2 separate regions of the Homo sapiens genome follow, and region 1 is linked to region 2. The links come from fine-mapping of genetic effects on gene expression. Tissue or cell type: tibial artery. Region 2 holds a variant in brackets; the other region holds the start of a gene. All regions are shown on one strand. Distances are between the middles of the regions.

Region 1 (5,097 bases), 230 kb after region 2:
TGGTATTTGAGTACTTCAGCTTTTGATATATACTAGAGTCAATGATTCTTAAAATGTAGTTTTAAAATGTTTACTAATAACCTAACAATCAATATAACTCAGTTCAAATACATACAGATATAGATGAGCAAATACAGACATATAGATGTATATAGTGTGTATATATATACACTCTATTTAATTAAAACCTGTTCTCTTCTCTCAGCCTCTAATAATGAATTTCTACCAAAAATGTCCCTGAACGGCAGGTAACACTTCCAAGATTTGCCCAGCCAGCAATTCTCAGGCCTACCTGCATCTCAGAATCACCTTGGAGAGATTTAAACATATTAATGGCAATGTCCAGTACTAGATTTCTGGTTTAACTGAAACCAATGTTGAGAACTGCTGGCTGGGTCAATGCTAGAAGTATTATTTATTGAATTTGAGAGACAGAAGGTGAATTAATATTTCGGGGTTTAAACTAGCATAATCATATGAACTGGGATCTGGGATGAGAGGGCACTCCACAGCCTAGATTGGAAACCTGCCCTATACTCTCTCAAACTATCCTGAATCTGCAAAAGAGTCTTCCAAACATTCTCTCAAAAATTCCTGATGACTGAAACTTAAGATTTCTTTGAAATGAAAGAACACACAATATCATTTCACTGTACTCTGGCAAAATTGTACTGAGCCTTAGTGCCAAATACCTGGTTACACTTATTTTTTCCACCTTATTTCCTTACAATAGTCTATAATAACTGTATGCAGCCTGGCTCTAAGAAATGTAAATCTTCTTTTTTTTCTTTTTTGATCCATCATTCAAAACAAAGCCTCCGCTAGATACTGCACAACATAAAAAGGAAATTTACTGCACATCATAAAGAAGACATTATTTCCAAATGTTTTCGCCTGTCAACATAGTATAGGACTGGGTAATGGCTTTCTGTAATAAACTCATTCATTTATTCCTCCCTTTAAAGTACAATACTTACTGTTTATTATATGCTAGACTTTTCTTTCAGGTGCTAGAGGCTGTGAAAGTGATCAAGACCGATCTGGCCTTCATCCTTCTAGATGCCTTTAAATGCATAAATTTAAGAAGAAAGTATGGCTGTAGTTCAAAGACATCTAAGCGTATGTTTAAAATAATGGAAATCTAAAATAACAACACTAGACACGTCATATGGAACCATAATTTACTAAGCGCGTACTAGAAACCAGACGTTGTGTTACTCCCTTTATACATGGCACTCATTTAATAAAGATGCTCTCCTAAAAAGATTAAACTACCATTTAGAAGAAATTACACGAAGACAAACGAGAAAAATCTTTCCTTTAGCAAAGTTTAAATGTGGCCTTTCCACAGTGGAGAGAATCTTCCATCCTAAAGTGGACAGGAACGAATTATGAAGTTGTGTTCATTCATTCACACAAAAATTTCTTCATATTAGTTCAACCAGATTAACTATGAGAAGATGTTTGGGTTAAAAAAATCACCTTGTCATAAAAAGATACTTCCAATTTCAAATCTTTTCAGTTGAAAATTCTATAAACTATATTTTAAGCATGATGCATAAATATCCCTCTGTCGTTATCACTGAGCAACAGTGCTAATAAATATGTTGCCAAACCAATAAAATAAATAAAACATTACTGCGTGCAGTAATTAGTCTTAGCTTTTTTTCTTTTTGCAAACTCCAGACCAACCAAAAGTCACCTGAATAAATCAGAAATTCATAGGACTGCAATTCGGGCCCATGCAAAAACTGAGACTTAACCCAAAGGTGTCTGACAATCTTTTAAAGAGCATTCTCGGGAGAAGCTATTTGACTAATCCTGGAACCGCCACTCAAAAAAATCATTTTTTAAAAAAAACGGTAGAATGGGAACGGGGGAAGTGGAGTCCATTTGTAAGGTTCCGGGGAACTGACTCAACATGGTTCTCCAACTCGAGGTTGGAGACACCGGGATTCCAAAATGGGAATCCACTCACTTCGCTTTTATAGGACAAACGCGTGCACAACTTGGCTTCGGGCTGCATTCAGGTAGTGCCGGGAACCCCGAGCTCCCGGGCCGCCCCCACCCAGCTCTGGCCGCTCCATTAAGGACGAGGGCCGGCTCCTGTCACCTCGCGACCCACGCGCACACACCCGCCCTAGGCCCGCCGTGCTCGATGCCGCGGGCCTGCAAAGTTTCCGCGGCCGCTCACTTGGGGGTAACCAGCGAGGGGTACGCCCAGAGGCTGCGGGGCCCCGGGCGCCTAGGCTGCGCGGGCGAAGCCCCGGTTATGCACGGGTCGCCGAGACCGGCTGGGCAAGCAAGAGCAGCCGGGCCGCCCCGACGTTGGCTGTGCGACTGTTGCCGCGGGGGCGGGTAGGGGGCTCGGCGGGCCGCACTCACCGTCTATGTTCTCCCGGTCGCTGATGTGCTGCAGGTTGCAGCCCGTGTCCTCGCGGCTCAGGTCCGTGTCTGGCCGGTAGGACTCCAGCCGGGAGTGGGCATTCCTCCGGAGCTTGGGACTGGACGACACGCAGCACGAGGTAGTGTTCCCCATCTTCGGCGGCCCCCCGACTCCTGCTGCTATCCTGTTCTCCCAGTCCCCGGGAGCGGGGCGCGGGTGGACGCGGGGCGCGGGCGGCGGGGGCGTGTGGGGAGGCCCGCCCGCTCGCCGCCACGGGAGGGGGCGGAACGGCGGCCGGCCGCCGGGTCAGCAGCGGCGGCGGCGGCGGGGCCTCGCCATGGGCGGCGGCGGCGGCGGCGGCGACGAGCGGGCGACGGCCCCGGCTCCCCCTCGGCCGGCCTATCCGCGGCGGAGGAGCGCTCGGGTCCGCGCGACTGCGGCCGCCGCGCCTACCTCACCCCGCCGCGGCCATGGCGGGCGGCGCCGCGCAGGCCGCCTCCCCCCCGCGCTTCCCCAGTTGGTGTCCGCTTCCCCGGCGGCTGCGGCGACGGCGGCCGCCTCGGCAAGAGGTTCCGGTTCAAGCCGGGGGCACGCGTGTCCGCGCCGGACGGCGGGACTAGCCGACGAGCGGGCGGGCAGCGGGCGTGGGCGCAGCCCCCGGACTCCTCGCGGCGCGGTGCGGCGCGGCCAGGGAGGATGCTGGCGGCCCTCCCTCGCCAGCGGCGCCCGCCCTCGCCGCAGCCCCCGCCCCGCCCCGTCACCGCCCCTTCCCTCTGCCCTGGAAGCAGATCGGCGGCCGCGGGGAGGTTCGGGGCGGCGCAGCCCCGCGCGGTTGTGGGATCGCTCCCGGGGGCCGCTCCTCTCTCGGGCACTGGGGTCGCGGGAGACGTCGTCGGGAGCTCGGTTTCTGGAGGCCCTTCCCCACCCGGCCTCTGCCTCCTCCACTCCCCCGGGCTGGACGGAACGGGGCCCAGCGCGGGATGCGAGGTGCGTCCCCGGGGCCCGCAGCGGGCGGGAGCGCAGCCAGGGCCCGGTCGGGGACGCAGGCCCAGGGCGCTGAGGCTGCACCTGCCTCTCCGAAACCGGGCTGGCTCTTTTTGTCTTTTTATTTTTCTAATTTATTTTTTTAGAGGTATGATTTCGCTCTGTCGCCCAGGCTGGAGGGCAGTGGCGCAATCTCGGCTCACTGCAGCCTCGAACTCCTAGGCTGAAGCGATTCTCCCGCCTCAGCCTCCAAAGTAGCCGGTACTACAGGCGCGCGCCACCACGCCTGGCTAAGGTGTGTGTGTGTGTGTGTGTGTGTGTGTCTCCAAAGTAGCGAGGACTACGGGTGTGTGTGTGTGTGTGTGTCTCCAAAGTAGCGAGGACTACAGGCTCCCGCCACTACGCCAGGCTAAGGTAGGGTGTGTATGTGTGTTAACTTTTTGTAGAGATGGGATCTCCCTTTGTAACACGGGCGCCCGCCACTAAGCCAGGCTAAGGTGGTGAATGTGTGTGTGTGTGTGTGTTAACTTTTTGTAGAGATGGGATCTCGCTTCGTAACCCGGGCTGGTATCGAACTCCTGTCTTCAAGGAATCCTCCCGTCTGGACTCCTCCCATGGGATTACGGGCATGAGCCACGGCACCTGGCTATTTTTTTTTTCTAAGCATTTAAATAAGCTGGGGCTTGATTTGGGAGTTTTCTATTGTATTTTGAGCTTTGCCGAGGACTTGATAGTGACCTTGCTTTAAGCTGTGAAATAAATCTTGGGGTCCCAGAGCTATTTTAATATTGAATTCGCTGTGGAGTTGTTTTGAGTTCCTTGGAGGTTAACATGAGATAGAAAACTAAGTTAACACAACTCATCGACTGCCCTTGCTTTGCTTTGCTTTGCTTTTAGAATGCCATCGGGTTTTGTCATGTTGGGAACAAGTTAACTTAGGCCAGTTGACTAAGATCAAGGTATGTGAACATGCCTGGCTGGGAGAGAAGTAGAGTAAATGTTGGTTCGCATTCCCTCCCGACGCCCACAATGCCAGCCATCCCTGACTTTTCTTGCCTTTATTGGGAAGAATATAAGGTGGCAGAAACAAACTTCCCACCCTTTTTCCAAATATTTACTGAAGGAGTCTTGAGGAGAGTCTTGTGGGGTGGGGGGGTGGGGGTGGGAGCTGGGAATGTTTTTGAACTAGTTCTTGAAAAAAAAACTAGTACAATAGTACAACTGTCTTAATTTTATATATGAGGAAACTGAGGCCCAGAGATGAAATCATGCCTTGATTTATGCAGACCTCAGTACCTGTTCGTGACAAATCCAGTTACTAAAAGGTAAGAGAAGGAATAAGGGACTTGATATTTATCTAGCATCAGCAATGTGTGGACATCGTGTGAACGGCTTTATAAACATTTCATTTAATTCTCTACATCTAGCCATTTTTTAACCTGTGCTTTCCCTCCCTCTCAAAGTACTGTTTATACATTTATTAGTCCATATTTTAAACGCTCCATGCTCTCAACTGTATTAATGCTATTTGTTAGGATAAGTGGCAGATGTCCATGGAAAATAAGTGGCTGCAAAGTGGTAATGCTGACCAGATGAGAAAAGAAGTGTAAAAGGGAAGTTCTAAAGAATTAAAGCCCTGGAGAGGGTGGGTAGACAACAACAGTCCAAAATAGTGCTCTTCATTGAGGCTGTGTAGATTTTCCTGCTTCCTGGGAAAACTGGGGCAT
Region 2 (5,097 bases):
GGCTGAGGCAGAAGAATCACTTGAACCCAGGGGGCGGAGTTGTGATGAGCTGAGATCGTGCCACTGCACTCCAGCCTGGGTAACACAGCAAGACTCCATCTCAAAAAAACCCAAAAAAACAAAAAACCTTTGCTTATTAAGTATAAAGTGATATTAAACTGGTTATTAAAAATATGAAGTGGCTGGCCAGGCACAGCGGCTCACGTCTGTAATCCCAGCACTTTGGGAGGCCAAGGCAGGCAGATCACCTGAGGTCAGGAGTTTGAGACCAGCCTGGCCAACATTGTGAAACCCCATCTCTACTAAAAATACAAAAAATCAACCGGGTGTGGTGGCAGGCACCTGTAATCCCAGCTACTTGAGAGGCTGAAGCAGAATTGCTTTAACTCGGGAGGCAGAGACTGCAATGGGCCAAGATCGCACCACTGTACTCCAGGCTGGGTGACAGAGCGAGACTCCGTCTCAAAGAAAAAAGAAGCAGAACAAATCATAATCAACTGCCCAGCTATATATCCTAGTAGCTCATCTTTATTTTACATCATGTAGTGGGGGAAATGATCAATGTGACCACATGCATCTCTGGTACTCAGATGATGTATTGGCAACACTGCACCACAAAACGCTGTTTTAAACCATCTTACCTCAAGCTTGTGAGCCCTCTCCCTGCTCAGGGGCTCCAAGGGAAAGCTCAGGTTGTTCGCTTCTGCCAGAGAACGAAGATCAAAATAATACTTGGCATAGACACTGGAAGGAACATTGATGTTGAACTGCAGCAATTCAAGAAACTGTCGCTCTAGCTCGTTCCTGCAAAGCAAAGACAAAAATAGCCTATGCTTAGCTGCCACACCAGGCCACGTGGCCTGCCAAGGCAAGTTGCTGGAGACCAGACTCCAGAAAACTGCATCCTCCAGGAAGACCAGTGATCTAAGTAAATGTCTGGTTAGACCACCATATTGGGATTAAAAGCCAAATCCACTTGATCTGGTGCCCAGAAGGATGAGGACTGGTTAACTGGGATCATCACCAGGAAGCGTTTCAGGGCGAATCACTTCACTGAGATCTAACACACACACAGCAGGCTCTGGCTGCAGGTCTCCGTGAGGACAGGCTGCTAACAAAGGGTGGATGCAGCAGCCAAGAGCTGCCACGTGGAGTCCAGTGAGGGCCCTTCCGCAGGGGCCCAGAGGAAAACACTCAGCCTCTGCAGACCTAGAGGACATTGGCTTCCTCGGTGGCCCCTCCCTACCTCCAGGGAGAAAAGAAGGGAGGAACTGTGTAGGGGCTTTCTTAGGCAAAAGGCAGGGATTATGGGGGGAGGGTGTCCAGTCTCTGCCTCAGTCTCTTAAAAAGAGAACTCACAAGCCGGGAAGAATGGAAGCAGTAGTTTCCACACTTGAGCACGCACCCCATCACCTGGTGGGCTTGTTAGAACAGACAGGGGGCTCCACCTTCACACTGTGGGGATCAGTAGGTCTGCAGTGGGGCCTGAGAATGTGCATTTCTAAGGAACTCCCAGATGATGGTGAGGCTGAGGCTCTTGCCCCGGGCCCACACTCTGAGAACCACTCAACTAAAAAGGTAGGTTGGGAGAGGAGGTGCTAAGATCCACCCTGCCAACCCATCTACATGTTGATGGAATGCTGGGAGAAATTCAAAAACTTCTACTTTAAGAACTTCTCATGTCAGCTATCTTTCAAATTAGGTTTATTTCTAGATAGTTCCTCTGGGTGGGGGGAACCTTCTCAGTGAGGGAACTATCTGTGGAGCACTGGTCCTGGGTCATGCACTCAGATTCAGCACGTTCTCCCCAGGAAGCCCCCAGGGGTGCCCACCCACAGGGTGCCCACCCACTGCACACCCTCCAGGAAACCTCCTGTCCTTGCCCACACTATGCAGCATGTGGCTGCTGAACTCAGCCTCTTGGGCTGTTCTCCTCATAGTCAGGAAGTGCAACATCTGCTTTTGCATGCCTGGCCCCCAGCACATGATCTCAGAAGGCTTCCCACAGCAGTGAGAGCTGAACTGAGGTGAGGGAAGCATGGAGCTCTGGCGGAGAGGAACCAGGGCTGAGGAGGGGGTGTTTCAGGCAGAGTGGGTCCCCTCCAACCTGCTGCAGGCAGCCAAAACACACAGTCACCATTTCCTGTGAGTGAAGCCAGGGCCCTAGTGCAGGGCCTCACCCTCCTGACCCTGATCCCAGCCTCGGCATTCTAAGTCATGTCCTGCCAACTCTGCTGAACGCTGAGGGTCTGGGTCTGAGCCTCACATGCAGGCACCATCCTGTCCTGAGTGATGTCCCGAGACCCCTATGGCTGTTCCCGGTGACTCA[T/C]AGCACTCAGCTATGAAGGACTGAGGAGGGCTCCACACCAGCTCAAGTTGCTGTGACAAAGGACAAGAACAGTAAGGAGGCGGGTGGGGAGGCTGGGGCTGAGCAAGGCCAGTGGCTCTGGGGAGACATGAAGCTGCTGGGGAAAGGAGCACTGGGACCTGTGGGCAGGCGGCAAGGAAGGAGGCCCGAGGAAGGCCCATTCCGGTCTCTTCATCAGATGAAGAGCGTCACTGCTTGTTTCCACACAGCCTCGTGAAAAGAGTGATAACAAGCTCCAAATGTATTTACTGTACTAAATTTCATAGTTTTAAGAATTTAGGCTGGGTGTGGTCACTCACACCTGTAATCTCAGCACTTTGGGAGGCTGAGGCGGGTGGATCACCTGAGTTTAGGAGTTTGAGACCAGCCTGGCCAACAGGGTGAAACCTCGTCTCTACTAAAAATACAAAGAAAATTAGCCGGGCATGGTGGCACATGCCTATAATTCAAGCTACTCAGGAGGCTGAGGCAGGGGAATCACTTGAACCCGGGAGGTGGAGGTTGAAGCGAGCCAAGATTGCGCCATTGCACTCCAGCCTGGACTACAAGAGCGAAACTCTGTCTCAAAAAAAAAAAAAAAAAATTAGTCAGGCATGGTGGTGGGCACCTCTAATATCCCAGCTACTCAGGAGGGTGAGGCAGGAGAATCACTTGAACCCAGGAGGCGGAAGTTGCAGTGAGCCGAGATTGCCCCACTGCACTCCAGCCTGGGCAACGAGAGCGAAACTCTGTCCCAAAAATAAATAAATAAATAATAATTTACTTTGATTTGGGATAATTTTTACTTAAAACAACTTTTATTTATGCTTCATTTAAATGAGATTTAATAAGAGATCATCCTGTGAAATACTGGAATCCAGGTAAGACTTCAACAAAACGAAAGCGTCAGAGGCCCTGCTAAGGCCAGAACTGTCAAACGTCAAAGGAGCAAATCCCAAGTGAACCTGGGAGCTGCCATGGACACACCGCCGTCTGGTGGTCAACAGGCGTCACTGCAAAGCGTATTCTCCCAATAGTAAGAAGAAAAGTCTAAGAGAACAGCCTGATAATCCTGCCCAAAATGATATACAGACACCATGGTTCCAGATGGAGGCAGACACTACGAGCAAAGTCAAGAGGAAGCTGCTTTTGAACAAGGCGGTATTTTCCCAGGGTTCCCTGGAAAACAGAACAACCTTCTCCAAGCTTGAGTTTCTGGTTAAGCTTTGGGAAAATAGATTTTAGAGCTGTTGTATTTTCAAAAAATGAATTTTTTTCTAAAGATTTAGAAAATAAAAATAATTTCCAAAACTTGAATTTCCAAACTGCAGCAGCACATCTTTTACAGGGACACTGACAGCTTGCTATGTGATAAATTATCAGAAAACTAACGTGATGCCAAGAATGGGCCTGATGGATTTACTATCTGCATTTAGATAACTATGAAGAAACAGTTTTGGTGTAAAACGTTGTAAGAAATATATTCAAGTCGACCAACAAAAACCACATTTCAGAAATATTTGTCACACTAGATCAACACTGTATAAAAACCCAATTTGGTACAATTCAGCAACTTGAAAATAGAACTCTAAAATGATGTTAAAAAGAGCTGTTTTAATCATCTAATATGCTGCCTACTTTTCTAGAAACTAGGGTCACTTCCCAAAAGAAGGAGAAACAAAGTCTTGAAAAGGTATCTGCATAGCCACACTTACAGCCTCCACTTACTAGCCCAATGTGGAGGTAACCCAAGTGTCCATGGGTGGATGAGTGGATAAACAAAATGGGACACAGACCCCCAGTGAAGTATTATACAGCCCTAAAAAGAAAGGAAATTCAGACACACTACAACATGGATCAACCCTGAGGACATTATTGGCAAGTGAAATATGCTGGACACAGAAGGACACAGACTGTATGATCCCACTTGTGTGAGGTCCTGAAAGTAGTGAAGTTCACAGAGACAAAAAGTAGGACAGTGATCACCAGGAGCTGGAGGAAGGAGGAATGGCAAGTTAGTGTTTAACAGGGGGAGAGTTTCAGTTTGCGAAAATGAAGGGTTCTAGAGATGGATGGTGGTAATGGTTGCACAACAATGTAAATGTACTTAGTGCTACAGAAATGTATACTTAAAAATGGCTACAATCATAAATTTCATGCTACATACATTTTACTACAATTTAAAAACAAAACACCACCAGAAACCAGGTATCTACAGAGGAACTGAAGTTCTTTCTCTGTGACCTTCTGTGCCATGCAATGCTTGGACAAGTCACTTGATTTCTCCTTATTTGGATTTGTCTACACATGAAAATGACATTTACGGGAACAGTGCAAAACAAAAACAAGAAACAGACAAACCTCGAGGTGTAATTTTTTTTAACAGTATTTTTGCCTACAGAACTCTGCATGGTGAAATTTCACTGTCCTTTCCCCATCCACAGCGGTTGCCACTTCTTGCTCTAAGCTGGCCTGTGATGCTGTGACCACTGATTGTTGGTGAGAGTGGGAGAAAGGCTGGCCCTTGGCCCCATCTTCCCACATGAGGTCTGCCTGAAGCTAACATCTGACTGGTGCTGGTGACTATCCACATGGCCTGGTGCCCTGACTATTCTGCCTGCAAGTCTCAGTGACACTCGTCGTACAGTGTTCTTCAGCCTGCGCCCACAGATACGCAGCTGCACAGTCAGCTGCCTTCCAAGCCAGAACCCCTCTGTCCAAAGGTACATGGGGAGACTCCCAGTCAAGTT

Evidence for each region. PIP is the estimated chance that this variant, and not a neighbour inherited with it, causes the effect.
Region 1: it holds the start of CCNY-AS1, and the variant in region 2 is fine-mapped to the expression of CCNY-AS1 in tibial artery (GTEx, PIP above 0.99).

The regions. Positions count from the first base shown.
Region 1 is chr10:35,334,496-35,339,592 of GRCh38, reverse strand. CCNY-AS1 (CCNY antisense RNA 1) reads left to right here and starts at 3,169. Exons shown (of 4, transcript NR_186477.1): 1 at 3,169-3,373; 2 at 3,517-3,665. CCNY (cyclin Y) reads right to left here and starts at 3,084. Exons shown (of 10, transcript NM_145012.6): 1 at 2,386-3,084. The coding sequence starts at 2,539. RefSeq lists a silencer at 2,719-3,458.
Region 2 is chr10:35,561,730-35,566,826 of GRCh38, reverse strand. CCNY (cyclin Y) reads right to left here. Exons shown (of 10, transcript NM_145012.6): 9 at 642-804. Among named protein-coding and RNA genes, the nearest start is that of GJD4, 41 kb to the left of the region's middle. RefSeq lists enhancers at 1,776-1,855, 2,126-2,235, 2,296-2,405. The variant T/C (reference allele first, on the strand shown) is at 2,330.